Homo sapiens: one gene and its partners. The protein of the gene in region 1 interacts with the protein of each later gene in a pairwise test. Each region holds a gene or a part of one and is shown on either strand. Other genes may lie near its edges.

Region 1 (11,305 bases):
AACATAGAACCTTAAACTTTCTTCAGTTGCTTCTTCCACTTCACCATTTTCTCCTTCAGTCCTACCTTATGTAACTCTGCTGTAAGATGTTACCATAAAGAACAGAAAAGGGGGACAGGAGTGGTGGCTCAAGCCTGTAACACTTTGGGAGGCCAAGATGGGTGGATCACTTGAGCCCAGGAGCTCAAGACTAGCCTGGGCAACATAGTGAAACCCCATCTCTACCAAAAAAAAAAAAAAAATCAGCCAGGCGTGGTGGCATGCACCTGTAGTCCCAGCTACCCAGGAGGCTAAGGCAGGAAGATTGCTTGAACCTGGGAAGTGGAGGTTGCCGTGAGCCAAGATCATGCCACTGCACTCCAGCCTGGATGACAGAGTGAGACCCTGTCTCCAACAACAACAACAACAACAACAACAACAACAACAACAAAAGAATGGAAATGGAAAAATCACTTTTCTCATATGCAAATGTTAAATACTGCATTTTAATGTCAACTTTAGATCTTATTTGAAGTGCTCCTTCAATGTTTTGATGTGAACTTTTCATTTGATATTATACTATGAAAGTTTAAAAGTAACTGATTGGTGGCATAGCTCTTTGTTTTTGATAATGCATTTTTTTCCAAAATTAATTTTATTCAGAATAAGAGTAGCTATGATCTAACCTAATAATAAATGAATAAAACATGAAGAAGAAATGGGTCTGATTAAAAATGGTGCAGAAACACTATTAAGACAGGGAAGGCTTATTAACAGAATGCAGACACAAGGAATAAGCCTGCTCAAGAACAAATGAGAATAATAAGCTCAGTGCAGAAAATGAAAATAAAGATGTTAGCCAGCTCTCCCTGGGACATGAATTTCAGTTGCTTTTCAGATCTTGGGGACAACTTGACCTGATCTCCTGTCCTTCCATTTGTTCATCTCAAAAACAAGAGCATAAGCTGGCTGGGTAGGAGTCCAATTTTGGTCACAGAACAAAGGTCCAAGCTACTTAGATCAGAACAGAACTGATGCAGTTCTAGATTGGGTTGGGTATCCTGCCAGTGGAACCAACTTATCTTGGGCAAGTGTGAAAAGGATTGAAAGCTTGTGCATTGGACGTAGTGTATTTCTCCCAGGGCATTCAAACACTTCAAAGAGAGAGCCTCCGCTTATAAAAGGAATTGAGCACATATATTAATGAGAAAATGTACAACTTAAGAGAGGATAAGGTAAGAGTTACTAAAGCTAAACATTTGTATACTTTATGATCCATTAATCTACTCCAGGGTAAATACCCCCAAAAAAGAAGGCATATGAAAAATACACATATAAGAATGTCCATAGCAGCTTAACTACCTGTTGTGCGTATACTTGACACATAATAGGTGCTCAATGTGAAATTGAACACATCTTTATATGCCACGTGTGGCTTCACAGACCAAATGGTACAAATTAATTGCATATATTTATCTATCAGTTTAGATTCCTTGGTTCCTCATTTCAATAACATGTGCCAGGACCTTAAATGCCCCAGCTCACCTTGCTTTTTGCACACATCTAAGAACACTCAAACCATGGCTAACCCCACATTTTAGGTAAGTAACTGGTATAACTAGAGACAATTACAGAACAGGGTTAGTTGGTTTAACTCTAAATTCATGATGACCTACCCCCAAATTGCCTGGGAATCCCTAAGGTTTCACCATCAGTTCTCTTTCTCATGGGTCACATAACTATTTCAAACCTCTCTCTAGAGAGAGAACTGATGGTCAATGCTTTTTTTTTTTAACCATTTTTCCCAATGGTTTCCCTCAAACCTCACTCTCACTAAATGGTTTTGCTTCATAATTTATAGATACATCTCATCAATTTCAACTCTCCCAACCTCCTGACATCAAGATACAACACTTCCTCCATAGACACGTCTTAGCCGCCTCCTCTCCTGAAGTGCCAGACAGAACTATGCCTATCAGAGGCCATTTCCGTCACTTATATTAGGAATGCTTCTCCTCTGCCCTTCTCAGATCTAAACAATATCAGTTCCCCTCCATTCTGTGTATTTAGCTCTGACCGGAGTCTGTTCATTGTCTTTTAACCAAGCTCAAGACTTTCTCATTAAAGCCATAGCAAAGAGCTGTTGTTTTGCAACAGCAAAAACAAATCATTTTACTCAGTCTTCCTTTCTTCTACCTACTGCTATCTCTTTCCTGCCCTTCACAGCCAAAATTCTCCCAGGAGTTGTCCACACATCTGTTTCAACATGTTCACCACTCATTTATTTTTTAACTCCCCACTATCTGTCTTCCAGCTCCTCCACCCCACGAAAAGAGCTCTTTCTAAAATCACCATTGACCTCCATATTGTCCAACACAATGAACATTTTTCAGTCGCCTTCTGGCTTGGCCTCTCAACGGCATTTGATGCTCTTGAACCCTCCCTACATCTCAAAATGAAACTCCCTAACACAGCCCACATATTCCTTGGCCTGCCTGCTCCTCTCTCTTTAAGCTCATCACCTGCCATGTTCCTCCTCACTGCCCCAATTCCAGATATTTCTGCCCTCTTTCTAATCTTTACTCTCACCAAGATCCTTCCTGTGATAAGCCTTTGCACATGCTGTTCCCTCTGCCTTTCCTTCTTTCATTTCCTGTAACACTTCAACTCATGCTTCAGACATCACAGTAAGTGCCAGGTATTGTGGGCCTTGACAAAGCCGAAGTGCCCTTGTACTTCTTCCCGTAATACTTGTCAAGATTGCACATTTGCATTTGGTTTACTGAATATTTAATAGATGACCAATTCTACTACTACTATAAGCTCCACAAGGGTAAGGACAAGCCTTAATCACCATTACATCCCAGCATTCAGCATCGTACCTGCTATTAGAGGATACTGGGATGGCCAACCCTGCACACTAGTAGAGACAGTGTATTCTGCACTCAGACTGCCTGGGCTCAAATCTTACTTCTGCCACTTGCTGACTTGAAATATTGAGCATGTTACTTAATTTCTTTGAACCTCAGTTTTCTCATCCATTCAGTGGGAATACTAATACCTGTACTACTATCTTCCTCAAAGCATTGTTGTGAGGGCTAAATGATTTGATAGGAGTAAGGTGCTTAGAAGAGCCCCAGCTAGAAAGTAAGATAAGTTCTCAATAAATGCTGGCTGTTATAACAATCATTACTCATTGAGTCAATAATAAAATACCAAATTGATGAACTGGCCTGCAAACAGAATACCTCTAAGTTTCTTTAGCACTCTTTTTTCTGTTTCTATGCCTAAGGCATCTTAACGTCACCTTCTATTGGGGAAAAAATTTTGCAGACCACACTAGGAAACTGAAACTAGAATTAGACAATACTGTCTTTTTAATTCAATGATCTTTACCATTCCTATAGCCACATGGGCCCTATGACTATTTTTTAAACTTCTATTTCATAAGCATATATTTCATATGTTACTTTGATAATTGAGAATAATTGAAGAAACTTCAGGTTCAAATTGGAAATTTTTTGTGCTATGAAAGACTTTATGTGGGTAGAACTATCCCTTATTTTCAATGGTAGAAAATCGAGGCTAACAAAATTCAAATGACCACAACGGTGAGGAGTAGACCCAGTCCAGACCTGAACGACTGACTCAGGCCACTTGGCTTCACTATCCCGAGTTGAGATGCTGGTTTTTTAAGTTGTTTTGTGTGGCACAAAACTTCACATGTTGCCTAGCATACACTACTGATTAAATACTTTAGGCAAACCTACTTTATTAAAAATTCATATTATTCTATAATCTATCTTTAAGAAATCAGATTTGAGGTCTTTAGAAATAATTTATTCAAGATTAAGGTAACTATGCAGACAGGCCCATTATTAGAGAAAGCACAGTGTTATTAGCAAACAAAATTTAAAAAGAACACTCAGGTGCTCCACTTACTGCTTTATCTCCCAGAGCTGTTCTGATACTAAGTCTCACTTTAAAAGCATTTTCTGCACCTGCCAGAAAAGAAAAAAGAAAGAGCAGTATATGATGATTAGGATCTGCCAAAACAGAGTCTGAAAAATCCTAATATGTAATGCAACTCAAACTAATGGAACAAAGAACTACAATTAAACAGCCCCAAATACTCCTGGAAGTTTAACCTAAATCATCTTAGATGGTTTAATATTTTCTTTCAAACTCATTAAACACTCACTGCCCCAACTTTCAAGCCACAACATGTCTGCAGATTTAGAAAAATAAAGAGTTCTTTCAGTCGATGACTTGTCAAACATGTAGAAAACTGTTCATCTATTTTTAAATTTCAAGGCTACATACCTGGTTGACAGAGTTCAGCATGAATGGCAGTCACCAGAAAAAAGAGCAGCCACAACATTCTTTCAGGGTGGAAAACACAAGGCAAAGTGAGAAAAAAAAAATCCACGCTGCACTTAAATCTGCCTTAGCCATTCTGTGACCCGGATTAGAATATCAGAGAAACAAGCGAGCCACCACCAAAAAGGTTTAATGATTAACACCCATCATTTGGGTTAATACTTCCATAAAAACAGCCCATCTCCTGTCAGTTATTTATGAAAACCTGTTTGGAAAACAGATTAGTTGTTTTCCCTACTCTGACTCTACCTCAAAAGAATGTCTTCTTTGCTGACTCAAAGTTGGAATCCTCCCCGACCCCTTCTGCGATTCTCTGGTTACGTGTATGATGGGAAGAATTGAGTCCTGTCTAGAGGTTTCCTTGACATGCACTTCCCACCTTTTCGAGGCTGAGATACCTGGTTCTTAGATAGGCTATCTTCATTCAGGAAACAAACGTGACTCCCTTCTCTCTGGTAAACAAAGGGTGCCCTCCGTGAAGGGCCTCACCTGACTCTCACCACAGCGGGTGAACATCCCAGGAGAGCTTCGGAGCTTCCTCTTACCTACTTAAGGTTAGAGGGTGGGAGGAGAGAGAGGATCGAAAAACTACCTATCGAATACTATGCTTATTATCTGGGTGACAAAATAATCTGTACACCAAACTCCAGTGACACACAATTTACCTATACAACAAAACTGCACAGGTGCCTGCACATTCACACATAGGGAATGATTGTGTTCAGCCCTGAGGTCTGGCACTTGAATTAAATCAAAGTTAATGATACAGAGCAGCACTGTCCAAGGGACATTCTGTGGCGATGGGAATGTTCTGTGTCTGTACTATCCAATATGGCAGCTACTACAGGTAGGAGGCCATTGAGCACTGGAAATGGAGCTAGTGTAGCTGAGAAATGGAATTTTTGTTTAATTTAATTTAAGTAGGCACATGTGGCTACTGACTACATTGGTCAGTACAGCAATACAACAGTAATTAAAAGTTACCCACTCTGAAGTACCTTCACTGGGTTATTTCTCTGATCCTCAGACACTTCACAATTGTTATCATCATCTCATACGGGAGGGAACTGAGGCTCCAGCGTTGAAGTCATTGGCAGCAATGGGATGAGTGGGATGGGTGTCACTTTACCAGCTAGGTTGACTTACACTTGAACCCTGTCTCCACCACACCCAACTGCTCTGTGTCTCTGGTCACCATTGGTCAAAATTGGAATTGATCAAATACCACAGTCTCACTGATAAGTGGGAGCTAAACATTGAGTACACATGGACACAAAGAAGGGAACAACAGACACAGGTACCTACTTGAGGATAGTGGGTGGGAGGAGGGAGAGGATCGAAAAACTACCTATCGAATACTATGCTTATTATCTGGGTGACAAAATAATCTGTACACCAAACTCCAGTGACATACAATTTACTTATATAACAAACCTGCACATCCACCCCTAAACCTAAAATAAAAGTTTTAAAAAACCCTGAAGTTGCAACAAAGCCTCAGAGATGCTCTGAGAATTAAGATAATGCGTGTAAAAGAATCTTTCCCCGGTGGGCATTCCACAGATGCCAATCAACGCCCCGCCCAGAGGTTGATGTCAGGACTTTCCTCTCTACCATGCTGCCTCTTCATAAATTCAGTCCCCAAATTCCACCCCATTCCTCAAAAGTCATGAATGGCAGAATTAGATTGGGTGACTCTGGTGTTAAATAGAAACATTGGATTTTCAAAGCAACAACGAGGAAAATATCAACAATGAGACTTCTGCAGCACTTTGAGAAACACATCATTTCTCCCTCCTTGCGAGGGTGGTATTTTATTGTAAAGGACCCACATCCATCAGCTAAATCCAACTGAGAAAGCTTTTTCTCATCTCCTTCACCTTGGTTGCAAGGACACGGAGTCAGGAAAAGCTGTACTAAAAGGAGAGGGAGCCACAACTTAGTCCAGCCATCCTAGCAATGTCACTGTATTAGGTGCAGTGGAAATTTCCAGAAGGAAGAGCTCACCTAGCTAACATCTGAAAAAAATAAAGCCAGACTAGATGAAGTCATCTTGGGAAATGTTAAACTAGATAAAGTCATCATGGGAAGGAAAAGTCAATACACATAGAGATTGTAACAAAGCATTTTACTTACATCAAGGAAGAAAGCTATGCTAAGAACATAGAAATCTGCTTCAGCGGCTGGGCACAGTGCCTCACACCTGTAATCCCAGCACTTTCGGAGGCCGAGGCAGGTGGATCATGAGGTCAGGAGTTCAAGACCAGCCTGGCCAAGATGGTGAAACCCCATCTCTACTAAAAGTACAAATAATTAGCCGGGCGTGGTGGCAGGTGCCTGTAGTCCCAGCTACTCGGGAGGCTGAGGCAGGAGAATTGCTTGAACCCGGGAGGCGGAGCTTGCAGTGAGCCGAGATCGTGCCACTGCACTCCAGCCGGGGCAACAGAGCGAGACTCCATCTCAAAAATAAATAAATAAATAAATAAATAAATAAATAAGAAATCTGCTTCAGCTTTCCTTTAGCCTTACACTTCATAAAAGTATCAAGTGGCTTTCTTTGGCTTTTACTTAGTCATTGATGTAACTCGGGTTGAAGACAATAGAACACTGAGTCTTAGTGTAAGTCATTCATTTGAGAAGACAATCTCTTTTGAATGATGGTTTCTCAATGTTTGTTGTATCATCTTTTCAAAAAGAGCAATAGAAATTCTTTTTAGAAAATACAAAGCAGCACAAGGAGAAAAGTAAAAATCACCTGTAATTCCATCAGCGTCAACGAATGACCAATTGTCAATGTTTTCTAAATATTTGGAACATATCTTTCTGCCTTGTGCTTTCTTTTTTGTGTAAATACATGTACATTTCTTCTTAAAAACAAAACTGGGGTCATGCTATTATGCAGCTTTGTCATCTTTGTTGAACTTAACTGTGTTTTGTTGTTGTTTGTTGTTTTTTTTTAATAGAGACAGGATCTTGCTCTGATGCCCAGGCTGGAGTGCAGTGGCACCATCTTAGCTCAGTGCAGCCTCAACCTCCTGGGCTCAAGCAACCCTCCTGCCTCAGCTCCCAGAGTAGAAACACAGAATTCTTCTTCAGGTTCCTTTAGTCTTGCATTTCTTAAAAGTGACAAATTTCTTCATAAGCTTTTAGTCATCTATGTAACTAGAATTGAAGACAGTAAAATATTGAGTTTCAGTCAGTGTAAGCCATTCATCTGAAAAGGGAAGACAATCTCTTATTTCATTATGATTTCTCAATATTTGTGTTCTCATTTTTAAAATGATTGAAAAAAGCAATAGAAATTCTGTATAGACAATATAGAGAAGCAAAAAAAAGTAGAAAACATCCATAATACTACCAGAATGGATGACCAATGCTAATATATTTTCATAGTTAGAATGCGCCTTCCTTAGCCTTGGATCTCTTTATATGTTCTTGTAGGATGTTGTTTTTTCTCACTGCAGTGGCACTATCAGAACAGAGTAATACAATGATGGGAATAAGACGCACCCTTGTCTTCTTCTTTACTCTAATAGGAATGCCACTACTGCACGGAATCTGGCAAGTGGCTTTAAAAATGATGTGTCATGTGATACGAGCATTATATTTGTAATTACAAAAAATTATTTTCCTCAGTAATTGGTGTTGCATTTTATCAACTGCTTTTCACTATTAAAATTTTTACCATTTGGTGTATTACATTAATACATTTTTCACATTGATTCAATTCTTAGATAAAACATTTTTTTAATTTATTTTTAGTATGCTGCTGGAATCAATTCCTGGTTTTTCCCCTATGATTTTTAAACCTATTTTCTTAAAAGAATATCAGGTAGGTTCCTTTTCAAGTGCTGATTCTTGAAGCGTTTTTTTTCCTAGCCTTTACCATCTTGAAAATGATACAGAAAGATTTCTAACATTGTCTATGTTTAGAAATACATATAATGTACCAGAAATAAAGAGTTCACAGATGAAGAATCTGGACCATGTGCATTTTAGAGGAAGAGTTCTTCAAAATTTTTCATTCCTTACATTATCATTTATTTCAGGTTTTATACCTCTTTCTGAATCCATTTTGGCTGTTTACAATTTCCAAGAAAATATTCTGTTAAGATTTTCTAGTATCCTCATGGACTTTATAGAGTATTTCCCATAAAATATCTACTTTTGTTGTTATGTTCTCTTTATATTTTCTAATACGTGTATTAATTTTCTCATTTTGATTATATTATCTTTGTTGTTTAATCAAAGAAGAAGATCTTGGACATAATTTGCAATTCTTTCTGTTTTTTGATTCATAAATCTTATTTATATTGGTTACATACTGTAACAAATTCATTGTTAAATAGTTTGATGGAGATCTCAGTAAAATAAATGGAAAACAGAACTAGATACTAGGGTTCTTGCCTCTCAGCATATTATATTTTCCTATACTTTTCAAAGTCTTGCACAAATTTAGTGCTTGTCTTGATGTACAAGTTTTAAGTAGTAAGTTTCCAGAGCCTTCATATCTGTATAAATTGCTTCATAAAATGCTCATTTCAGCAATTTCACATATGGGAGCTTCATAACTTATTAGTAACCATGGTAATGATGACAAATAAAGCAGTTCAATCATTCTGAATATGTTACTATTTACTTCCAAACGTTCAGAGTTTAGAGCATGTAGATTTAAAAGTTCAGATTACTGTTGCCATGAGCCACACAAAAGGGCACTGAGTCTCCTGAGATGGGAAAACGAAATTGATTTCTCCGTGTTTTTTATACTCCACAACACTCTTGAAAAGCACTTTCTGGGCACATAACTATGGATCTACTGCTCTGGGGTAAACAGAATATGAGATCACATGAAAAGAAAACACATGTGTCGTTCTTTTGATTCATGCAAGATCCCTTAAGTTCACTAGATTCGTATAAATACGTGGGCGTATGTAGGCTCCATTCACCTCCAATAAAGCAAGAGGTGGAGATGACCAATGTTTCTTTTAAAATTGACCCTGGTTATTTTGTTTCATTATCAAAAACAGAAATTTAGTAAATATATAGCTCCTAAAATTAGTAAACTGTAAAACCATCTCAAATGTGACATTATTCTGTATATTTTTATTGGATTTTCAGAAATGTTATCTGGCTGTGACACATTAAAAGAAATCAATTAAAACTTTTAATAATTGAACATAGAAACTTTGTATAAGATTTTAAAACTTCACACTTTTTGCTGCTGGGCATGGTGGCTCATGCCTGTAATCCCAGCACTTTGGGAGGGCGAGGCAAGCAGATTGCTTGAGTCCAAGAGTTCAAGACAGGCCTGGACAACATGGCGAAACCCCCTCTCTACAAAAAGTACAAAAATTAGCCAGGCTTGGTGGCATGCACCTGTGGTCCCAGCAACTTGGAAGGCTGAGGCAGGAGGATCACCTGAGCCCAGGGAGGTTGAGGCTGCAGTGAGCCATGATTGTGCCACCACACTCCAGTCTGTGTGACAGAGCGAGACTCTGTCTCAAAAAATAAAAAAAACAAAAACCAAAAACAAAACACACACACACACACACACACACACACACACACACACACACAAACCCCTTTGGAAGTTTTAATATCTTAATTAAATGGCTCTACTCAATGATTTCCTAAATGTTGTAGAATTTTAATAAATGACATCCTTCCTTGTTTAAATTGTAATGAAATGGATATACTATATATAATAAACAATATCAAGATGTTTGTATTATTAATAATTTATACAATGTTTTCAGTATAATTAGGCAACAAAAATAATTTTATTCTCTTTAAATTGTCAGTGTTAAGATACATGGAGAGACAAAGTATTTTTGTCTATTGTGTGTAAGTTCTATTTTAACTCAGTGGTTTTCAATTGGGGGTGATTTTGTGCTCCAGAGACACTTGGCAACGTCTGGTGACATTTTTAGTCATCATGAATGGCAGATGAGAGGATTCTACTGGCATCTAGTGGGTAGAGGCCAGGGATGCTGCAAAACACCCCCACAAACTTTAAAAATGTCATTTAGGTAACTCTTTTCTTCTTGTAGTTGAGTTAATGGAAATAACCCACACAAGGAAGAACAGAAGAAAAAAGGGAGACAAGTGTGTGTGTGTGTGTGTGTGTGTGTGTGTGTGTGTGTGTGTGTGTGTGTGTGTGTGTGGTTTCTCTAAGGCTAAGAATGTAAAAATATATACATTGCAATGCATTTCATGGTACTTAATTTCCAGTCACAAGCTTATTAGAACTTCAGTTTATGATTCAAATTAGTCAACTCAGTTTTCTTAAACTATCATATTCATGGGCTACGAGAAATGCAAAAATGAACCAAATATAGTCTCTGCCCTTCAGGAACTTACAATTTTGTAGGACACAAAAGTAAATCACGATGGCAATAGATGCACATACAATTGTGAACAAAATGCTATAGGAACACTGGAGAAAAAGAGGATAAAAAGTTACTGGATTTGACAAGTCAATTATAAAACTGTTAACAAAAGAAAAATAGAAGAAAGGTTTCTCAATGATAATCAAGATAGACCTGGAACAATGGCAAGATGTTTAAAGATAAAACATGAAAGCCCACAGGATACAAGTTAAGGAAATCTGAAAACAAACACAAAGGACAGATACAGGATATGGCCAACAGCAGGGACTTGCTGGTAGAGTGGTTCAGAGGAAGATGGGGGAGAGAGCATCAGTGTAGATGCATCTGAAAAGCCAAGTTGGGTTCTGATCTTAGAGGTCAGAGAGTCTGGATTCTCCAACAATGGTCCTGAGAGGCTAATGAAGATTTCAATGTGGGAATGGGTTCATTGTAAATGACACAGAGAAGGACAATGGGAGATGGGAAGGACATTCCCTGACAGTGAGTTTCCAATGTGCCCTTTATTTACTAATCACAGGCTGTTGGACTGGCAGCCCACTACGTGCCCATGACTACAA
Region 2 (10,493 bases), on another chromosome or scaffold:
CAGTAGAGTGTCTCCAGGACCCTGCTCCAACTCTACTGCCAGCATTAGCAGTTCTCTATATCAGCTAATACTTATTAAGCAGCTTCTATATGTCAGGTACTTTATGGTGTGATTACAATTACCAAACACAACATTCATTTTGACTGATGAGAAAACAATTTTAAAGACATTGTGTAACCCACCCATAGTGTAATGGAAAGAGCACCAGTCAGAATCTAGGCCTATTGGCTCTTAAACAAATGTTCTCTCTGTTATACAAAATAGAGGTAAAAGCAGCATTAATTTGGTATTTATTTATTTATTTATTTATTTATTTATGTTTTTTTTTTTTGAGATGGAGTCTCGCTCTGTCGCCCAGGCTGGACTGCGGACTGCAGTGGCGCAATCTCGGCTCACTGCAAGCTCCGCTTCCCGGGTTCACGCCATTCTCCTGCCTCAGCCTCCCGAGTAGCTGGGACTACAGGCGCCCGCCACCGCGCCCGGCTAATTTTTTGTATTTTTAGTAGAGACGGGGTTTCACCTTGTTAGCCAGGATGGTCTCGATCTCCTGACCTCATGATCCACCCGCCTCGGCCTCCCAAAGTGCTGGGATTACAGGCGTGAGCCACCGCGCCCGGCCTAATTTGGTATTTATTGATGAATACCTGTTGTTTCACCATTTGCTACTCCGTGTGGGTAAGATGTTTAACTGAGAACAGGATGAAGGCTGAGGAGAAGCAGTGAGATTTCTCAAACTGGTCTCTGAGATTGGTGTAGTTTCATGTTTCAACAGGGCACTATGTGTGGAAGGTGGACTGCAGCAGGCCAAACTACGGAAAGGATGCCTTGGAGGTTACCAAAGAGAAAAATAGGCACAGCTTAAAGTGATAACAGATACAGGGAATGGTTTTTGTGTTTGTTTTTGCTTTTTTCAAGGTTAGGGGATAATTAAACATAGTTAAAGGAAATGAGAGAAGAAAAGCTTAACAATTAAAGAGGAATTAGATCAATAGTTTTCCTTGGCCAGGTATGATGGTGACACCTGTCATCCTAGCACTTTGGGAGGCTGAGATGGGAGGACTGCCTGAGGCCAGTAGTTCAAGACCAATGAGACCATGTCTCTACCAAAAAACTTTTTAATTAGCTGGGTGCAGTGGCATGTGCCTATAGTCCCAGCTACTCAGGAGGCTGAGGTGGGAGGATAGCTTGAGCCCAGGAGTTTGAGGCTACAGTGAGCTATGATCGTGCTACTGCGCTCCAGCCTGGGCAACAGAGAAAGACCGTGTCTCTTAAAAAAAAAAAAAAGTTTTCCTTCACATGAAGAAAAGATGTGTAAATTTGGAGAGAAAGAGAGAAAATCTGAGATATAAACAGTAATAATAATGCTAACACTTATTGAGTATTCTGTGTCAGGCTCTATTCTAAGAGCTATACAATAAGATCTTGATACTTTTCATCCCACATAAACTCAATGAGGTAGGTATCATTATTCTCATTGTAAAGATGAGAAAACTGAGGAAGAGAGTGTAAGAAAGGTGGGAAGTTAAAGGAGACAATATGATTACAAGGTACAATAACATTAGCTACCCTTTAGTGAGTACTTATGAAGTGCCAGATGTGTATGCCCAGCACTTGGCATATATTAATTCATTGAATCCTAACAACCATGATATGACATTTATGCATTCAGTTGTATCATTTTTACTTCTCAGATGCATCAGCTTCCTAGGAATTATTTTGGAGGAAAAAAATTGTAGTCCCAGGGCCTGGACCCCAAAAGCAAAATTATACTGTTCTATTATTTCTTAATGAAAATGATTTGCTTACTATATTTTGCAGCTACCAGGAAGAGTGAAGCCACAAGCACTCTAAAAATCCAAAATTCTTACCGTTAGGAGAATAATGCTTGGTGGTTTCATGGGATACTCTGGTGGCAGTACTATCCGCCCGTGATAAACTCCTCCATCAAAATCGGAGTCTGGGGGCCCTCTAACCGTGAAGTGCCATTCAAAAAGGTTATCCTGAACAAAAACAATAATCCACAAGGAATTAATAATATTGAAAAGTTTGATCATTTTATCTGAATATTAGAAATATTACCAAGCAAGAAAAATTAAATGCTTTATATTATTGCTAGTATAGTTTCTAATGCATGAGATGTCTCGAGACTATAAGTGATAAATTAAATTTATAAGTAAAAGCTATTTAATCTAGCTTTCATGTTCCATTGAGCTAAAATATTTTATAATAAACACATTAAAAATTTCTGAGTGTTGTTATATATTCATAAGTAACTTACAGGTTTAAATTGGAAATTAATCCTTGAAAGAATAGCAAATTATGATAATTATATAATCAAAAAATTACTATGTTTGGGTTATTTTAACAAATCTTTAAAAATTATCCCTTATAGATGCCTAAGAGCTTATTTATAAAATGGTAATACTAATGTATTTAATGTCATCTTACAGTTACCATGTACTTTTCAGTTTACAAAATACTTGCACTTAAGTTATGATATTTTTATTCCCACTGTTACCATGAAAACCTGCCTGGGTATATTTAAATACCCTCCTTTTACAAATGAGAAGACTGAGAGAGGCCGAGATGTTTATACAAAAAGCCTTGAGTAGCTACGGAGACCCATCAAAAGGCTTCCAAACTGTAAAGTATCTGGGGTTCTTTCCACCTCCCCTCCCTCAGACTCAAGATCTAACCTCGGCCGGGTGCAGTGGCTCACGCCTGTAATCCCAGCACTTTGGGAGGCCAAGGCGGGTGGATCACGAGGTCAGGAGTTTGAGACCAGCCTGACCAACATGGTGAAACCCTGTCTCTACTAAAAATACAAAAATTAGCCGGGCGTGGTGGTGGGGGCCTGTAATCCCAGCTATTCAGGAGGCTGAGGCAGGAGAATTGCTTGAACCTGGGAGGTAGAGGTTGCAGTGAGCCGAGATCACATCACTGCACTCCAGCCTGGGCAACACAGTGAGACTCCGCCTCAAAAAAAAAAAAAAAAAAAAAAAGATCTAACCTCAACTTAGCATCTGAGACCCATTTTATAAAGACCACAAAATCCGTTTCTTCTAAAGTGATTTGGAATGGCTAATGAAATATTCATGAAATATGGTGAATAAAACGTCAAACTACATCACACACATCTGTAATGACTCAAAGCAATGAAAAGCAATTTTAAAAAATTTGTTTTAAATATTAAAATCCATATGAAGAACATGGAGATAGAAACTAACCTCTAAAGGCTGCGCATGGTAATGATCTGTTGGATCTTTCAATTCTGCCGCTTCTTTCATTAAACGTTTAACAGCTAAAATAAAATTCATAAAATAGAGATATTTAAAATATACTTTTCTGAATGATTAGCACAGTCTTACGAGCCTAATGAAAAAATGTGTAGAGAACTAGTGCAAATGAGCATATGGCAAAGGTTTAATTATAAGATTATGGGAATAAATAGAGGGGGAGAGGAAGGAAACAGTTGCTAGGCATTAACACTTTAAAAGAGTTATATATTAAATATATAGTGAAGACACTATTTTTATTTAATAAGTACTTATATATACTTCCTATATGGTGGTATTTATTGAAGTGCTTTTACAGACATTAATAACTCATTTAACCCTTAATACAACATTACTAGATAGGTATTATTTTTATCCCCATTTTCCAGATGAAGAAGCCGAGACACGGAGAGATTATATAGTCACACAGCTAGTAAATGACAGAGATGGGATTCCAACACAGGCAATTTGGCTCTACCTGTTAAAATGTCTTTATTAACAAAAAATGTATTCTCTGGATCTCATGCTCGGTGAACAGGAAACACCTCTATATCCTCCAACTCTTGGGACTTTCCATCCACTATCTTGCATTAAATGAATGGACTGTCCCCTGAATTCACTGACTCTCCAAAGCCCCGATGAAATTCCTTCTTGAAATGATCCTTCAGCTTCACTAAAACCTCCAGTCCACTGACCCCACAACTTTCTTCACCCCTCCTATACTTATATTCATTTTCCTCTTTATCCACACCCTTGGCTCTTAGGAGTCCCTCTTGTACACTCCCTTAATAAAATCCAACTGTGCCTGACCCAACCCAACCATCTTATTTGCTGTCTATACCCAAACAGCTGAGCATCACTGAAAGGAGGAAAAAAAGTCAGAGAGGATGGTGCAGTAATGCCATTACAAGTCATTACCAACAACCTCTACTGGGATACAATGCCACCTAATGTCCCCACATTTCTCTAGTAGGCCTTCCAGCCTACTCTTTCCACCTAGCACTCCAAGATTATTTCCCACCTAGTCTAATTTCTCCTCTCTTTCAGTTAATGGCACCCAGCTTTTTATCTCCCTGATGAATGACTGCTAGCAGGAGCTGCTCAGATGCCTATCACAATCTACAATCCTATCTGTATCTGCACCCTCTGTCTTCTATTGGCTCTCAAAATTCAATCCTTTGATATGCACTCTGGATCCCAACCCCTCTCATTTCAAGCTTTTGGTGCTAAAACATGTCAGGATACTGCAGTGGGATGGCTGAGTTAGGGAAAAGGCTTCTCAAAACTGGGTTTGCAACCACTGATGTAGCTCAAAAGAGAGGTATGCACCAGATGCTGGGAGGACAGGCTGGGCATCTAACTTTAGAGCAAATGGAAGAGAAAAGGAGTCAGGTACTGAATGTGAAAGAAATAACAGTAGAAACTCCCCAGGTAGATATGAATAGGAAGAGGTAATAATAAAAGTAAAATGTGTAGAGGCACAGGTTGGAATGTTATGGGGAGAGAGATTAACTGAGAAGGAACCCCTACATGTATATAACCACAATGGTTTGGTATGTATCAAGACTTTTGCATAAAATTGCATTTGAGGCCAGGCGTGGTGGCTCATGCCTGTAATCCTAGCACTTTGGGAGACCGAGGCGAGTGGATCACCTGAGGTCAAGAGTTCGAGACTAGCCTGGCCAACATGGTGAAACCCTGTCTCTACTAAAAATACAAAAATTAGCCAGGCATGGTGGCGGACGCCTGTAATCCCAGCTACTCGGGAGGCTGAGGCAGGAGAATCGCTTGCACCCAGGAGGTGGAGGTTGCAGTGAGCTGAGGTCGTGCCATTGCACTCCAGCCTGGGCTTCAGAGAGAGACTATCTCAATAAAACAAACAAACAAACAAACAAAACCAGGCACGGTGGCTTAGGCCTGTAATCCCAGCACTTTGGGAGGCCGAGGCAGGTGGATCACCTGAGGTCAGGAGTTTGAAACCAGCCTGACCAGCATAGTGAAACCCCATCTCTACTAAAAATACAAAATTAGCCTGGTGTGATGGCACATGCCTATAATCCCAGCTACTAGGGAGGCTGAGGCAGGAGAATCGCTTAAACCCAGGAAGTGGAGGCTGCAGTGAGCTGAGATCGTGCTGTTGCACTCCAGCCTGGGCAACAAGAGCGAAACTACGTCTAAAAAAAAAAAAAAAAGCCCTCCAGGCCGGAGGGCAGTGGTACGAACACAGCTCACTCACTGAAGCCTCAACCTCCCAAGCTCATGCAGTCCTCCCACCTTGGCCTCCCCAATAGCTGAGACCACAGGCATGCACCACCATGCCTGGCTAATTTTTAAATTTTTTGTAGAGCTGGGGTCCCCCTGTCTTGCCCAGGCTGGTCTCGGGCAATCCTCCTACCTCAGCCTTCCAAAGTGCTGAGATTACAGGCGGGAATCAGCATGCCTGGCCAAAAAAAAGTTGTTACTATCCTACTTCACAATTATTAATATTCTTTTCCATTTCTTACTCTGAACTAAGCCCCTATATGCAGAGACTTTGTTCACTGGATCATCAACTATTTCTTGAGTTCCTACTAGGTACTAGATGCTACAGCTTCATGCGTAAACAAAATATGGCTTTGGTCACTAAAGACTGACGGCTGGGAGGTGCAGTCAATACAAAACAGAATGATAAATGCTATATTAGAAATATGTACATACTGAGACACCCTCTCCCTCCAAGTCTAGAGACTGGGCTTTGGTCAATTCCCTGAACACACTTTACCTCCCCTCCACTCTCAGCCTTTCTATACAGCTTTCCTCAGGGCCCAGGCTGCTCCGGCCCCATCCTCCGCCTCACCGTCTAGTCTGGCTACCCTAGACCTTTAAGTAACTTCTCAGGAATGTCTCTATGACACCTTCCCTGGTTGCCCCCTGCCCCCCACCCCCTACAGTGCTTGGAGATTTCAATCTGGGCAGATCAAAATCTCTGAGGCGTCCTAGGGAGGGGTAGAGACTAGGAATGCTCTCTGAATTACTCTGGTTAGGTTTAGAAACCACTGCCCTAGAGACCAGGTTGAGTCTCCTTGCTCTATGCCATCATAACACTGTATTTTTCCTCTTATGAAGTTCATCTCACTTGTAATTACTTGTTTAATATCTGTTTTTCCTGCTAAGCAATAGTAATGACAGTGTAGCTGTAGCAGTACAGTCTCCTCAGGGCTTAGCACATGGTAAGTACTCAAATATTAGTTGAATTAAATTTTACTATCTTCTCTCAACATAGCTCTCAGAATCCGATTAAAGGCAATGGTTTTTAAACTTACTTAATAAAACAATTAAACTTATTTAATAAAACAAAATCCTTCATTCAAAGAAAGCTTAATGAGAACCCCAACAGGTGAAACAAAAACCACAGAGCCGCTTTGGTTGCAGAGGCCAGTGGAAGGGCCTGCGGACTATCTACTCCCTGTCCTTCCATTTCACTCCTGAAGGGACCCATAGAACAAAGATGGAAAACCCTGCTTTAAAGCCACATAAACATATCATTCCTTTAAGTTAATATTATTAGATAGAAATGCAATTATGGAAGCTGTTATGAAGTTAATTAGTTTGGAGATGCCAAAAAGATTGTTTTTCCTTCATTCCTCGTCAACTGGCTGAACTCAATAATGATTAAGCTGAAGTCAGATTTTATGTCATTCTATACCCTTATCGCATTTTCTCTGCCTCTTCCCTACTCAGTTCAGTTCAACAGGAGAGAAGAAAATAAACACTCAAAACTTGTACCTGGATATTATGAGAGATGTATAAAGGGTCAGAATTGTTATAAGAATGTATCTGTACCAATCCTGTAAAGGAACAATCATTGGTTCAACAGCTAAATAGCTAATTAGTTCATAAGTCACTCAGGCACATACCATGTAAGAGCTAAGGTCATGTAGCCAAAAGGTGAGATTAGTCTCTTGTTTCCATAAGCTATTTTTTTTGCAAAAATAACATATATTATGAATGCTTCAGTGAAAAGAAACAGGGACTCGATTTAGAGCTGCATTAAAATTCTGACTCTGACATTTTGTAGCTCTAAGTCCTTGAACAAGTCACTTGATCTGATGTTTACATCTGTCAAATAAGAGTCAATAATTTCTCCACAAAATTCTCCTTTCCTTTTCACCCCTCCTTCCTGCCCAGTCCCTGAGTCATTAAGGTTGAAAATGGACTGGTATATAAGGCCTTCTCAATGATTCTTCCTAACTCAAAACCATGCCTCAGCAGATTTCGCTGGCCTTATGATATGGCTCCCTGGCTCCTGAGGAGAAATACCACTGTTAGGAAACAGTCATGGTTCACAGTGCTGCCTGGCAACCGGGCTACAGCATAGTCTGCCCCTCCTGATACTCCATCTCTTGCTTCTACATGGCTAGAGAGGAAACTTTTATTCCAGCTCCTCTCCTATCTCTTGGAAAGGTTTTTCCATGGAATCCTTTCACTGTGGTGAGATAAGATGTGCCAGGAAAGGAAGGGGTGGCACCTGGATGCCTGCTCTTGTTCTTCTTTCTTATAGAGGCCACATGGACACTCTGGAGCCATGCTCTAGGTGCTGTGGGCCTAGGCATTAGCATTCTTCACACACCTTGGCTAGCTCACTAGCCTCACATTGGGGTTTGTATACAGCTAAAAATAAAGGGATCTTCTACAGGCCACTGCTTCCCATATATGGATTCCTCTTCAAAAGCAATTATCTTGATATTATCAATTCCCAAAGCATGAGTGAAATGCAGGAGACAGGTATATTAAGGAAGGCATGCTCCCTAACTGCCTCTTCCTGCTCCCATAATGAAGGTACTTAAGCAAATGCCTACAGAGTGATGTTTCTGCCCAGGAGGACCCTGCAAATGTATCAGTTCAACAAACATTTAAAGAATGTCTGAGTGTTGGAGATAAAACAATGACCAAGACCTGCTTCTTGTCTTCCGTAACAGTCAGTAGAGAAAGACATGAAAATAATTACAACCAAGTGGTAATATTGACCAAGTATATATGTACAAGTATATATAGGAACTACTTTAGTCTGCCTAGGGGAGCTAGACAAGGCTGAACCTTAAAGCTTGAAGAACTATAGGAATTTCAGATGGATTTAAAGGAAGGCATTCTAAGCAGAGGTTCCAACAGGAACCAAAGCACCTAAGTGAGAAAAGCTACTCCAGCTAGAGAGTCATTCAGGCAAAATGGATAGGTAAAAACGCAGGCCTGGTGCAGTGGCTCTCACCTGTAATCTCACCACTTTGGGAAGCCAAGGTGGAGGGAACACTTGAGCTCAGGCGTTTGAGACCAGCCTGGGCAACATGGTGAAACCCTCGTCTCTACAAAAAATACACAAATTAGCTGGGTGTGGTGGCACACACCTGTGGTCCCTGCTACTCGGGAGGCAGAGGTGGAAGAATCACTTCAGCCCAGGAGGTTGAGGCTGTAGTGAGCTGTGATGGCACCACTGCACTCCAGGCTGGGAGACCCTGCCTCAAAAAAAAAGAAAATGAGGAAGAGCATAAGAGTGGTGGACAGTGAGGCTGGTGAGGAAGGGCAGGGTCAATCATGAGCAGCCCTGTAGGCCAAGCTAAGCAGTTTACTTTGAACTTTATTGACAGCTATCAGAAAGCTACTGAAAATTTTTCAATTTGGGGGTAATCAGTTTTTGTTTTGATTGATCTGGTGACAACAGTGACTGATTAGATATATGTGTTTCTGTGTGTGTATTGAGTTGTGTGTTTCAGGGCAGGGATGGAGCAAGGAAGCGACCAAGAAATAAAAAATGACTCCCATAGGTGCCTGAGTGCTGTCTATCCCTGAGATATGAAATACTAGGGTAAACTGCAAGTTTAGGGGAGGAGAAGAAAACTGATGAGTTTTGTCTTTATACTTACAGAGATTTTTTTCACTCTATGGGAAATGAAGATGTTGAGTCACCATAAGTTCTGTGTATCTATAGCTTACGAGAAGGGCCTGAGTTGGACATGAAACCTTGAGTGGATTAGTGGGAAGGTGCAGTTGACACCAATGGCATGGATAGGTAACTCTTAGACTTCTGGTGGAGGCAGTGGGTACTTTTGCACCAGTCTCTTATACTCCCACCACCTGCTGCACATGTCAATGGCCCCCTGATGAAGAAGCTGCCAAAGGAGGTGCTTTATACACATTTCTTCACTTTGTACTATAAGACCCTACTTCCTTGGCCAGAGCAGACCCAAACACGGGTCAAGTAGCTTGATCCATAGACAACTATTGACAGATTATAGACAAGTAGCATGATCCATAGACAACTACTGCTACTACAGTAGCAGATCCATAGACAACTACTGACAACTACCACAGACAACTACTGTGAGGTGATCCTACACAACAGCTCTATCCATAATCACAAGTCCATTCCAAAAAAAAACCATAAAGCAAAAAGTTTCCCCACCTATGAAATGAAAAAATTTACTATATCCACATGCTAGTACACTGGCCCTTAACCAGCTATCTGTATTGTCTTCACTTAATCTTTCCACTCATACATCAAAGACAATCCCACATCAGATAAAGAGTAAAAGATTATATCCCTCACATTGTGTGGTTGTTTTTTGTTTGTCTGGTATGTTGGTATTTTACGTGTGTGTGTGTGTGCACCCTGCCATACACAGGAAATTGGAGTTTTCAGTTGCTCCCCTTCACACAGGCATTACTCTAAAAATACCACAGGACTGAGAATAAAGCAAAGGAAGGAAGTATTTTCACAATGCCTCCCAGCATTTTCAGTAAGTCCCATATCTTACCTAATTCAACTTCTCCATGAACTCCAAATAATTCACACACTAACAAAAATAGATTTTTAAGAAGCATTGTGTTTTTTTTTTTAGAGCAGCAACACTATCTTTGAGGAAATGAAACCAGAAAAAGGAAGCAATTTATGACACAGCTAGAAGCATGTCAACCAAAGCTCAACCAGCTGACAATAGTTCACATACTTTGGAAATATACAAAATTCTGGAGATTTTTAAAAGCTTATCATCATAGTATTAAGTCTAACCTATCGAAATTGAGCGATGTTTTCTGACAACAATCTCTTGGGTTCCACCAGTTCTCCATTCTAAACTGCACTACTACTCACATGTGCATTATCCTCTGGACCTTTCACTAAGCACCTCTGCTGTCCTAAGGAACCGTGTGACCAGGGAGCCACCATACATTTTTACCCAAACAGCT
Region 3 (10,656 bases), on another chromosome or scaffold:
CAGACAGCCACCGAGCTACCTTTCTAGAATACAGGCCTGACCCTCTCTGCCTACAGGACTAAGTCCCAACCCTGGCACAGCATGCAAGGCCCCTGCCTGCCTTTCCAGCTGGAAGCATGGGCTTTGGAGTCCTACAGATCATTGCAGTGACACTTAGATAAACCACTTGCTGGCTATGTGAACACACATGTGTTTCTGCACCCATTTCCACATCTGTGTGTTGGGAATAGCATGATCAGCCTCCCAGAGCTACTGTGAGGACCGAATCCAAGTTCTAAAGAGCCTAGATCTCACCAACCTAGCTCCAGGGTCCTCTCTCTTTCCCATCTTGCTATACCAGCTCTTCATAATCAATGAGAATTGACTCAAGGGTAAAAAAAAAAAAATACATGCAAGATCTAAAAATGAAGGGTCATAAATTTAAAAATTAGGCCACCACAATGTGAAAGAAACCAAAATTAACTCATTATCAAAATAATGTAGGAGGACGGAAGGAACAGGAAGAGAAGGAAAACAGTACATTTAGGAAGAAATGCTTTTAAAATATAAGTCTCTATGATGTTTTGAGCCTCATTTGCTCCAAAGATTTAGGAAGATGACATTTCAAAAGCTCACAAAGACGACACTTCTACTTTTTAAAAACTATTTCCTAATTATTATCTTCAGAGAACTAAGAAGTACTTTCACAGACTGAATGTTAATAAAATTCTCAGAGGAAATTCTGGCATCAGTCACAACAAACACCCTCTTGGAATTTAATTTCCTTTCAGCATACAATTTACTATGGAAACTCATTTGTGATGCCACCACAACCAGTCAAAATCTGCCTGGAGCACAAAAACTTCAGAGTCCCAAAAGAGGGCCTTAAAGGACTAGATGGAAATTGGTCCCATATTAAGCCAAATCCTGCATCTAACAGAAATTTCCCCCACACCAAACTAGCTTTGACCGTCAGCCAGCCCACTCCTCTCTCTAGCTGCCCTATACTATAGGCTCTTCCAGGGCCCCCTTCCAGCTAGAACCCCCTGAATTCTGTATCTTTTCCCTGTCCAACAAAATTAATTTAAAAAAAAAAAAAAGGAGGAAGGCCACAAAATGGGCAAAGGGAAACCAGCTACATCCATTTTCAACTTTCTATCAAAGACCTGTCCTTTCTGGCTTACGATTTTTTCAATTCCCTTGGACAAGACAATCACAGGCCCTGGAATATTCATTGCGCGTGCTGGGGCTTAGGGTGGGAAGGCAAAAAGGCTAGAAGAATCATTGATAAGTACAAAAAGTACTTTAAGCCTTTTCCCCCTGAGGACAACTGCTGAAAGACTTACTCAATCCCATTGACCCAAGTACCTGTGTGCAAGGGAAAGGAGTGGATGCCAATCTTTACTCAGCACCCACTGCAATTAGTGGGTACATTTCTTGAATATAAGACAGACAGTATTATCCTGATTTTACACATGTGGAAACCAGGCTCAGAGAGGTCAGGCAGCAGGTTCAGTATTTACACCCAGGCCTGCCAGACTCCCAAGACGCTTGAACTTAACCACTTCACCACACTGCTTCCAGAGTCTACAAGTGTTTATGTTAAAATGTGCTGGGTTAGGGAGCCCGTTAAGAGTTTACTTGTTGCTCTTCACATACAGTATCTCATTTAACTAGCACAACCCTGTAGGATAGCTGAGAATTCCTTTTCCACTGTTAACAAAATGGTACATGGATTGAAAGATCATCAGTAACTTATGCACGACAGCTGTACCAGAGTCGTGCCATCTCTTGGCTTTGTTTTCTCTCCTGTAAAATGATGCTCACTCCTACCTCACAATGCCTGCTCAATGGCAGGGGCTCAAATGGTGACGATTATGATTTTTATCAATACTTCTCAATTAAAGTAAAATTTATACACACACAAACACTAGATATTTTAAAGACTCAACCTAATTAATCAAGCCTTTACTTGTTGGAGAAGATATCATTTTTAACACTACCTCATCTGGTCTGAAAAGGAAAGTAGTTTAAAAAATATTTGGAAAAAATTGTTTAATAATAAAATACCACTACCTCAAACTCAGAGAGAACCACTAACTGCAGCTTCCAAAAAGCTGACAAAAAAGGATTACTGAAAATGATGTGGTCAAACCCAATATGGATTTTGAAAGCTACTAATGGACAAGAACAGGAACATTCAGTTATGACAAAATACACACACAAAAAAAATTCCTCTTCTTCCAGCACCATGGCTTGATCATTAATGTGTGGTGTGACCCTGGCCAAGTCACTTCAATGCTGTGATGGCCCTCAGCACCCAAAATGTCAAGGCCAGCTTATGACCAGGAAGCTCTAGTGAGAAGTTGCCCAGGGGGTCTAGGGGACAGGAGCGGGGTGGAGGGGACACAGATGATTGCCTGGAGCAATTTTTAATGTGCTGCCTCTAACTCACTGCTTGCCTTTTACTACACTCATCTGAAAAGAAATGAGAAGTCTGGGCATGCCAGAGGCAAGAGGAACCAGCTCACCACTTCTCAAGCCAGAATGGAAAAGATGGCAGAAGCATAGTTGTACAAGGACCCCAGCATCAGTCAGACAGAAGGAAACCTATAATATTATGCAATGAGAGACCCTGAGGATGTTCTTCAGACAAACCCCAGCAGGACCAATCCAACTCCAAGCTTGAGCGTCCACTCCAAGCTTGAAGATTAAACAATAAGAAAAAATTCGGGTCCACAGGTGAAATACACACTTTCTAAGCACAATGAGCAACTTTATAGTAGATAGCTGGACAACCAAGTACACTAACTGCAAGCATAAGAACAGTATTCATGTTGTAAATCGAGTACCAACTACTATTAGTTTTTTGTTGTTTTGCTTTTTGCAATATTTCTTCTCATATTTTATTTTAAATCTAAGCTAATTTCTTTATAAGAACAGGCTAAGGCTTATTTTCTGTGGCTGATCCAGCCTTACAAGAAAAAAGATTTCACTGTGTCCCTCAGAAACCTACTCCTGTCTACATCACACTGTCGAGCTCTCTCTTTATACCCCATGTGACAGATAAGAAAACAGAAGTCCAGAGAGAGCAAGTGACTCATCCAAGGTCAAACTTCTTGCTAACACATCTAGGACGAGAATAAGGGCTCAAGAAGCCCACTATGGGTCTCTTGCCGTATCACTGCTGCAAATGACCAGGCATACTGGTGTCTTGAATACAAAGTTTATTTGTAAAGGGGAAAAAAAAAAAGCCAACATGAGTCATCTGCATTGTCAACGGGCTCCACACAGGTTGTTCTAATAAAGCATCCAGCACCTCCAGAACCACTTGTTTCTGAAAGCACCAACCTACGCAGACACTAGCAGGCCATGTCTTCCACCCTTGCCACCCTCGAGGCTGTGAGCAGATGCGCTGTTGGGCTCTGGGGATCTAGAGGTGTCACTTAAAGAGCAAGGGAGCCTGGAGCTTGGCAGTACTGACTGGATGAGTGGATGGGTGGGTGTATGAGGACATGGGAGTGTTTTCTGACAGCTCCCGGAGATAGTTATGATATCATGCAGCCTAATCCCACTCATCTTGGAACACCCCAAACATCTCATCCGCTCAGCTGTCCCTCCTCAACTTCCTCAGGGCAAAAGCACTGCAGTCTGAGGTGAATCTGGCCGCTGGGGAGGGGCGGTAGTCGGCCCCAGCAGCAGAGGAAGCAACGCTCAGCTCCCTCCTCCACCCACCCCGTACAGGAACTCCCCACTGGGTCTTCAGATGCCAGAGGCGTACCCAGCTCGGAGCCTGCCCCGGGTCTCAGGGTCGGTCCCGAAAGAACGGGGGAGGAGGAAGGCTCTATCCCGCCCCCGCCTCACCTCTACTCCCCGACCCCCAGGCGCCGACCCTTCTCACCCGCAAGGTCCGCCGCCGGACTCTTGTCCACTCCCAGAGACCCTGAGCGCACCCCTTTCTCGGCGTCCTCAAAGGACCCGCGTTTCCCACCTTCCCATACGGGGCCCTCCCGGCCGCCCCGGCCCAAGCCCTTTGCACTGCGTCCCCCGGCCCCTGAGTCCGCCCCGCACCCGCACTTCCCGCCCGGCCCCGCGGGCTCGCGGTCCGCCCCAACTTTTCCCAGCCCCCGCCCCGCAGCAACCGGGATGCAGCGTCTCGAGCCGCGACGGGCAGGCGAGCTCGAGTCCCTCGGGCCCCCAACCCCGCCCGCACGAGTTGCGCTCGGGACCCGCCGGGCGCCCAGGCCTGGGTCAGCAGCACTGCGCGGAGGCGGAGCCGGCGTGGCGGGAACCGTACTGTCCCGGCGCCGCACCCCCGCCCGGTGCCCGGTGCCCCGTGCCCCGCGCCCGCCCGCCGGCTCGCCCGCCCCGCCGCCGCCGCCGCCGCGCCGCTCCCAGCCCACCTGCCCGCGGGCGCCGCCGCCGCCGCCGCCACCACTGCCGGGAATACGTGGCAGTGGCCGCCGCCGCTTGCGCTCCCCGCCTCGCCTCTCCTCTCGGCGCCCGCGCGGGCGACTCTGGCGCGCCAGACCGCAGCGCCAGGCGCCCTCTGCCGCCGGGAAGCCGAATCCTCCCGTCCTAACCCTAACTCGCTGGCTGCCCCCGCCCGGGCCTCGGCTCCCGCCCCCTCTTCCCCGTTCCCGGCTCAGACTGTCGCTTCCGAGCGACCTGGGTTCTCGCCCGGCCTGCTGCTGCCGCTGCCTCCAGGAAGTTCGCCCTGACCACCTCTGCAGGCTCAGCGCGCTTCCTCCGGCTCCCGCGCAGCGGGTGCTTAAGTCACCCCCTTGTTGATATATTTCCTGCTTCTTTGAACGCCTCGCCCGTGAGATAGCAGAATCGGAAAGGGGATAGTTGGAGGCAAACGCCATGTCTGTTGTGTTCACCATTCTCTCCTCCAGGGCAAGGTTAGCGCCCTGTCTGGAATACTGAAGTGCGCAATAAATACTTGTGAAGAGAGCAAACGAGTAGATGAATGAGTTGAGACTTTTACCGCTGTCTACCCAAGTAGGCTTTGAAACCTCAAGCGGACAGAGATCCTGACCTGGATTTGTTTTTTGTAACTTACACGTGCATATGTGTGCGCAGCTCAGCATAAATAAATGAGATTCACAATTCCCCACCTCGGACCAGCGCCAAATCCGCAAGAGGCCCACGGCTAAATGTTATTCAGGGCTTTTGGTCAAACACGTTTAGGTTTGAGATCTACCTCTTAAAAGCTGGGCAATCGCGGGAAAGCTCATCTCCCTGGCCCACAGTGAACACGTCTATAAATTAAGAATAATAAAACCTACTTCACAGAGTTGTGAGAATTAATTGAGATGGTGCACTATAAAGTTCTTTACGCAGCCCCGATGTGTGCGGTGGTATGTAAATGGTAGTTATTGTTGTATTACTACTGATGCAGTAGGTGATTTTAAAAACTATCTTCGAAATGTAAAATATTGACTACCTTTTCACCTTAAAACCTTTATATGTGTGGTATTGTCACCTGCTCAGCAAGGCCAGCCCGGGGAGCAAGGCCACTCCTGTAACCTCTTCCCCTCCACCGGTAAAAATATAACAAGTCTTGGGGTTTTTTTGTTCTGTTTTGAAGAATTGTGGAACCCACTCTTCTGCAGGTTTTCCACCTGGATTTCTGTGGCCAATCTCTTAATTAACAAGTTTTTATTTTAGGGATGTCAAAGACAGGGAGCCCTTTGAAAGCACCTGCAGTCTACTGGCTCTTCCTGTTTTCTTCCTGACCCTCTCTCAAACAACTTAAGGCTTTTTTTTTCATTTTTACAGGAAGTGTCCTTCCTGCTGCGTACAAAAGGCAGCAATGCAGTAGAGTGGGATCAGAGGGGATTGGGCTGCATACACCTTGGGCTTTCTGCACCTCAGTCCCCTCAACGGTAAACTGTGGAGAATAAGACCTTGTCACATTGGGAGATCATTCATGATCCGGTCTGTGAAGGAAATAAGGAAATACCTGAAACACAAAGATATTTAATAAAAGGCAACTATTGATCAGTTTATTTAGCATGTATTTAAGGAGCATCTTTTTAGTGTTCTATGCGCTGAAAGAATGAGGGGAACACGCGTGTGTGAGGTAAGTTTCCTACCTTCAAAGGAGTTTGAGCTGTAGCTCCACACTAGGGCAGAGGGATTGGGAGCATATGGGATGCAGCTAAATATGAAATTAGCAAGCCTCAAGGTTTAAATTGGGGCAGTGGTACTGCCGTGTGAATTGCTTTAATTCATTATCATTGTAAATGCCATTTTCCTCTAAATATTATGTACACAACTTCCCAAGGCCACTGCTAAAAATTAATGAATAATTTTATGAGGCAAGCAGAGCCACTGATGTAGGACTCAGTCCCTTAATAAGGTGACTCCACATGCTCCCTTATAGTAGTAATAACATAGATATTGTGTCTGTGAAAGTGCCATCCTTGGCTGGGCGTGGTGGCTTACCCCTGTAATCCCTGCACTTTGGGAGGCCGAGGTGGGTGGATCACCTGAGGTCAGGAGTTCGGGATCAACCTGGCCAACACGATGAACCCCGTCTCTACTGAAAATACAAAAACTAGCTGGGCGTGGTGGCAGGCACCTATAATCCCAGCTACTTGGGAGGCCTGAGGCAGGAGAATCACCTGAACCCAGAAGGCGGAGGTTGTAGTGAGCTGAGATCATGCCACTGCACTCCAGCCTGGGCAACAAGAGTGAAACTCTGTCTCAAAAAAAAAAAAAAAAAAAAAGAGAGAGAGAGAGAAAAGAAAAAGAAAGTGTCATCCTTTATAGGTTAGAGTTGTGTATCTTGCAATGCAAGTCTCAGAGGAAAAGTTTACACATTTTACACTAATGGCTTCTAATGAATCACCCCTACTGAGTTGTCCTTCTGTAGCTCCCTCCCACGTTGACCCTGGAGTTGGCCTTGTGACTTCCTTTAGCTACTGGGACATGAACAAATATGACACAAGCAGGGGCTTTCGATGTGCACTTGTGCCTTGCTCCTTGCTTTCTTGAAATGCTATCCTGAGACTGCCATGAAGAAACCTGGTCCAACTCCTTGAAGAGGAAAGACCCTGAGAAGAGAAAGCCTTGCTGTCCCAGCTATGCAGCCCACCAGCTCTCAGCCACATGAGTGAGCTCCAGGGAAAGCCAGCCAAAAATAGTCCAGCCAACCCAGGAATTGTGAGAAATAAAATGGTGGTTGTTTCAAATCACTAAGTGTTAGGGTGGTTTGTTATACAGTAATAGATAACTGACACACAGATCACTCACAGGCACTCCTGCAGTTACAAGTTCTAGATGAAATTCACCCAAGAATCAGTACTCTTGCTAGCGTTTTCTGTTATGAAGCATTCAGTTGAAGTCACTAAATCTAAGCTTAGCAGAGCATCACACTTCATGTAAATACCCTCTTTGAAAGTTCTTCATTGAATTGGTTACTGAGCCTAGTACTGTTTAAAATCCTTTGGCAGTCAACATAACAATGGGCTGGCAAAATCAGCTTGTAAGCTACCAAAAGCTTTAAACGTTAGAACTCCCTGGAACATCAACAGCAGGTATCATAGAGGTTAGGTGTGTTTATCTCTCCCACTTGATTGTAAGCTCCTTAATGACAATTACATTTATTGGCATGGTTTTATCATAGATCACGAAACATCAGAGATGGAGTTAGAGATCATCTAACCCACCACCTCATTTTACAGATGAGAAAACTGGGGCTAAGAGAAATCATCAGAGCCTTACAAATATCCAAGGTCCTGGAGCTGGCTCAGAGCAGAACTGGGATGACCAATTCACAGTTCTTTACGCTGTTAGTTGAACTCTTCTGTTTTTCCTTTGTGACATTTTTGCTATTTAAAATATTCTTCCCATGCTCAAAATATGTCTGTAACTTTCCTATGTGCTGGTGATAAAATCTAAACGATTATACATGGCCCCATGAGGTCTGGTGCAGCTTGCCCCTACAGAGATATTGGTACTGTTCTGCCCCTCACTCAGCACACTTTGCCCAACTGGCTTTCTTTCTGTTCCCCAAACCAGCAAGCTCTTCTCTTCTTCACAGAAAGCCCCTTCCACATGCTGTTCCTTCCACTGACGTGCTCTTTCCCAAACTCTTCACTTTGCTAAATCCCGCTTTCCAGAACCCATTAGAGTTCTGTGGTACATTATTTGGGAAATAATGTAAACAAAAAAATTTGGTGCACATAGAGGTAGCTCTCAGTCTCTTCAGCCAAGTTTTGGAAAGCTCAAAGACCAAACAGCTCAGGAATCTTATGGAGATTTGATTCCTAACAGACACCTTGTTGAGGCTCAACCAGTGGAACAAGCCACTCTGGTTTTTCTGTTTTTGCATCACTCCACTCAAGATTCCAAACCCTAGAAGAACGTCAGCCTTGGTTAGCTTGGCCACATGCCTACCCTCAGCCAGAGAAGAACAGGACACCTTGAATGAAAGCCTCCAAACATAATCATCAGGGCATTGTTACCAAAGAAGGGAAAGTTGATCAAGGATAACAAAACCAGTGAATGTCCACTACATAATCTCTCGGGCCTTGCCTTAAATGTCGTCTTCTCAGAGAAGCTTTTCTTAACCACCCCATCTGTTGCACGCTTTCATGACACTCCTTGTTTTTTTCACTGTTCTCATCATATTTTTATAGTTACATATTCTCATGTGTTTGTGTCTCTCGAATTCTCCCTCCACGAGAAAAGGGACTGCGTTTGCTTGCCCACTACTATACCTTCAATACCTAGCATGGAGCCTGGTGCATACAGGAACTCAATAAATATGTATTAAATCAATCAATAAATGAGCAAACAAATGAATGAATAATATAAGCCTTGTGAGTCTTCTGACTTAATCCATGTGATATTAACTTTGTAGGAAGAAGGAGAAAAGACAAAGAGAATATAATGAGTGTAGGCTGTGGAAGATTCTCTCTGCTGGGTCCCTTTGTGATGCTGTGGGGAGGACAAAGACTCGTGTGCAGGATAAATGAAGAAACACAACCTTGTGCATCAGAGATAAGCCATGTGTTGTGCTATGCTGTACTGTCCTTGAGGGATAAATTATGCAAGTAATGAAGTAAGAGGGGGAGGCCTAGAATGGTGGTCTGCATGTCTCAGAATGTTTGCAGAAGTAGGAACCCTCAAAACTGCTGCCTGACTGCAGCTGCCAGGAGCTGAGGTCAGGAATGTATGTTCATAAACCTACTCCCTTGGCCCCTGTTCATGCCTGGCTGTGCATTCTCTGTAGCAGAAGTTCCAGAGTTATCTGCCGATGGCTGCAAATCCACAGACAGGTTTTTCACAACTCAGAGGTAAAATGAGAGTAATCAGAGCAATGTAAAGCTAAATGTATGCAATTCTTGTATCAATGATTATTATATTTGTAATCATTTGGATGTGGGTTTTTTGTTTTGGTCATTTTTTGGCAAAATAAAAAGTTGACAGCCTCAGTTTCCATTCCCACTCCCAAAATGTTTTTGTAATGGTTTTGGTCTATGAAATCTGAAAGCCTCAGAAATTCTCACTTTATAATCTCAGAGACCTGGACAATCCCTGCAAAGGCTTCAGACCCATCAGAAAATCAACTGTTGTTGTTTTGTTGTTTCTCATGTTTTAATCATGTAGCCTGTTTCCTTTTCTGCCTCATACCTACTTGGCAGTCATTTAACTCCAGTGGTTAAAACATGGGGTTAAGGGGACTTCACTGCCAGAATCACATCTGTGGCTGTGGGTCAGGAGGGAGCTGGGCCTTGGTTCTGTCCTGTCCACAAGGAAGACCTGGACTTGAGGTCTGGTTGTTACCAGTGGAGGGTCCAGGTTCTTGGCATTTCGAACATTTGAACAAAGAACTGGAGAAAACACACAAACAAAGCAAGGAAAGAGTGAAGCAACAAAAGCAGAAATTTATTGAAAATGAAACTCTACAGGGTGGGAACAGCCTCAAGCAGGTGGCTCAAGGGCCCTGGGTACAGAATTTTCTGGGGCTTAAATACCCTCTAGAGGTTTCCCACTGGTTACTTGGTGTATACCCTGCATAAATAAAGAGGCTGAAGTGAAGTTGCAAAGTTATTTATTTGGTGTACACTCTATGCGTATGAAGAGGTTATTTCCTGTCATAGCTGAAGTAGAGTTACAGAGTTATTTACTTGGTCGTAGAAAGTTGGGGTTTTTCCGTTTGATTTGCTTCTAGGAAGTCCTTAGTTTTCCTGCCCTGAGACTCTATTCCCCTGCCTTATGGTCAGTGGCCATGAGTGTGTGTGTACACTCACATGCATGTGTGTGTACTTATGGCAGGGAGAGTCCTTGGGTGTCCCCAACACTCTTCCACCGTAGGGGAGCTACTTAACCCTAAGAGGAGATATTGTTCTTAATCCCTGTTTTACAAAGAAGGAAAATAAGACTTAGAACGTTTAAGCAATTCACCCCAAGCCTGGTTAAATACAAAGTTCAAATACTTAATTAACCTTAACCTCTTTGGTCATAGTTCAGGTGCTTGATTGGTGTTACCTGAAGTTAAATCTGATATGAATTCCCAGAAGCCAACATTATGGAAAGACTTTTCTAGAACTAGGAAAGAGGTAAAAAAAATTTTTTTGAGTCAGGGTCTCACTCTGTTGCCCAGGCTGGAGTGCAGTGGCACAATCACATCTCACTGCAGCTTCAACCTCCTGGGCTCAA

The links.
Region 2: the proteins of CLTRN (region 1) and UBE2J1 interact in binary tests that used the Homo sapiens proteins (3 or more experiments, as listed by UniProt).
Region 3: the proteins of CLTRN (region 1) and SMCO4 interact in binary tests that used the Homo sapiens proteins (3 or more experiments, as listed by UniProt).

The regions. Positions count from the first base shown.
Region 1 is NC_000023.11:15,660,416-15,671,720, forward strand, and holds the start of CLTRN (collectrin precursor), read right to left. Parts: upstream 4,391-11,305; 5' UTR 4,361-4,390; coding exon 4,303-4,360; intron 3,981-4,302; coding exon 3,922-3,980; intron 1-3,921. UniProt on the Homo sapiens protein: Plays an important role in amino acid transport by acting as binding partner of amino acid transporters SLC6A18 and SLC6A19, regulating their trafficking on the cell surface and their amino acid transporter activity.
Region 2 is NC_000006.12:89,340,456-89,350,948, forward strand, and holds part of UBE2J1 (ubiquitin-conjugating enzyme E2 J1), read right to left. Parts: intron 3,302-10,493; coding exon 3,228-3,301; intron 2,001-3,227; coding exon 1,869-2,000; intron 1-1,868. UniProt on the Homo sapiens protein: Catalyzes the covalent attachment of ubiquitin to other proteins. Functions in the selective degradation of misfolded membrane proteins from the endoplasmic reticulum (ERAD) and is essential for cells to recover from ER stress.
Region 3 is NC_000011.10:93,538,894-93,549,549, forward strand, and holds the start of SMCO4 (single-pass membrane and coiled-coil domain-containing protein 4), read right to left. Parts: upstream 4,499-10,656; 5' UTR 4,383-4,498; intron 1-4,382.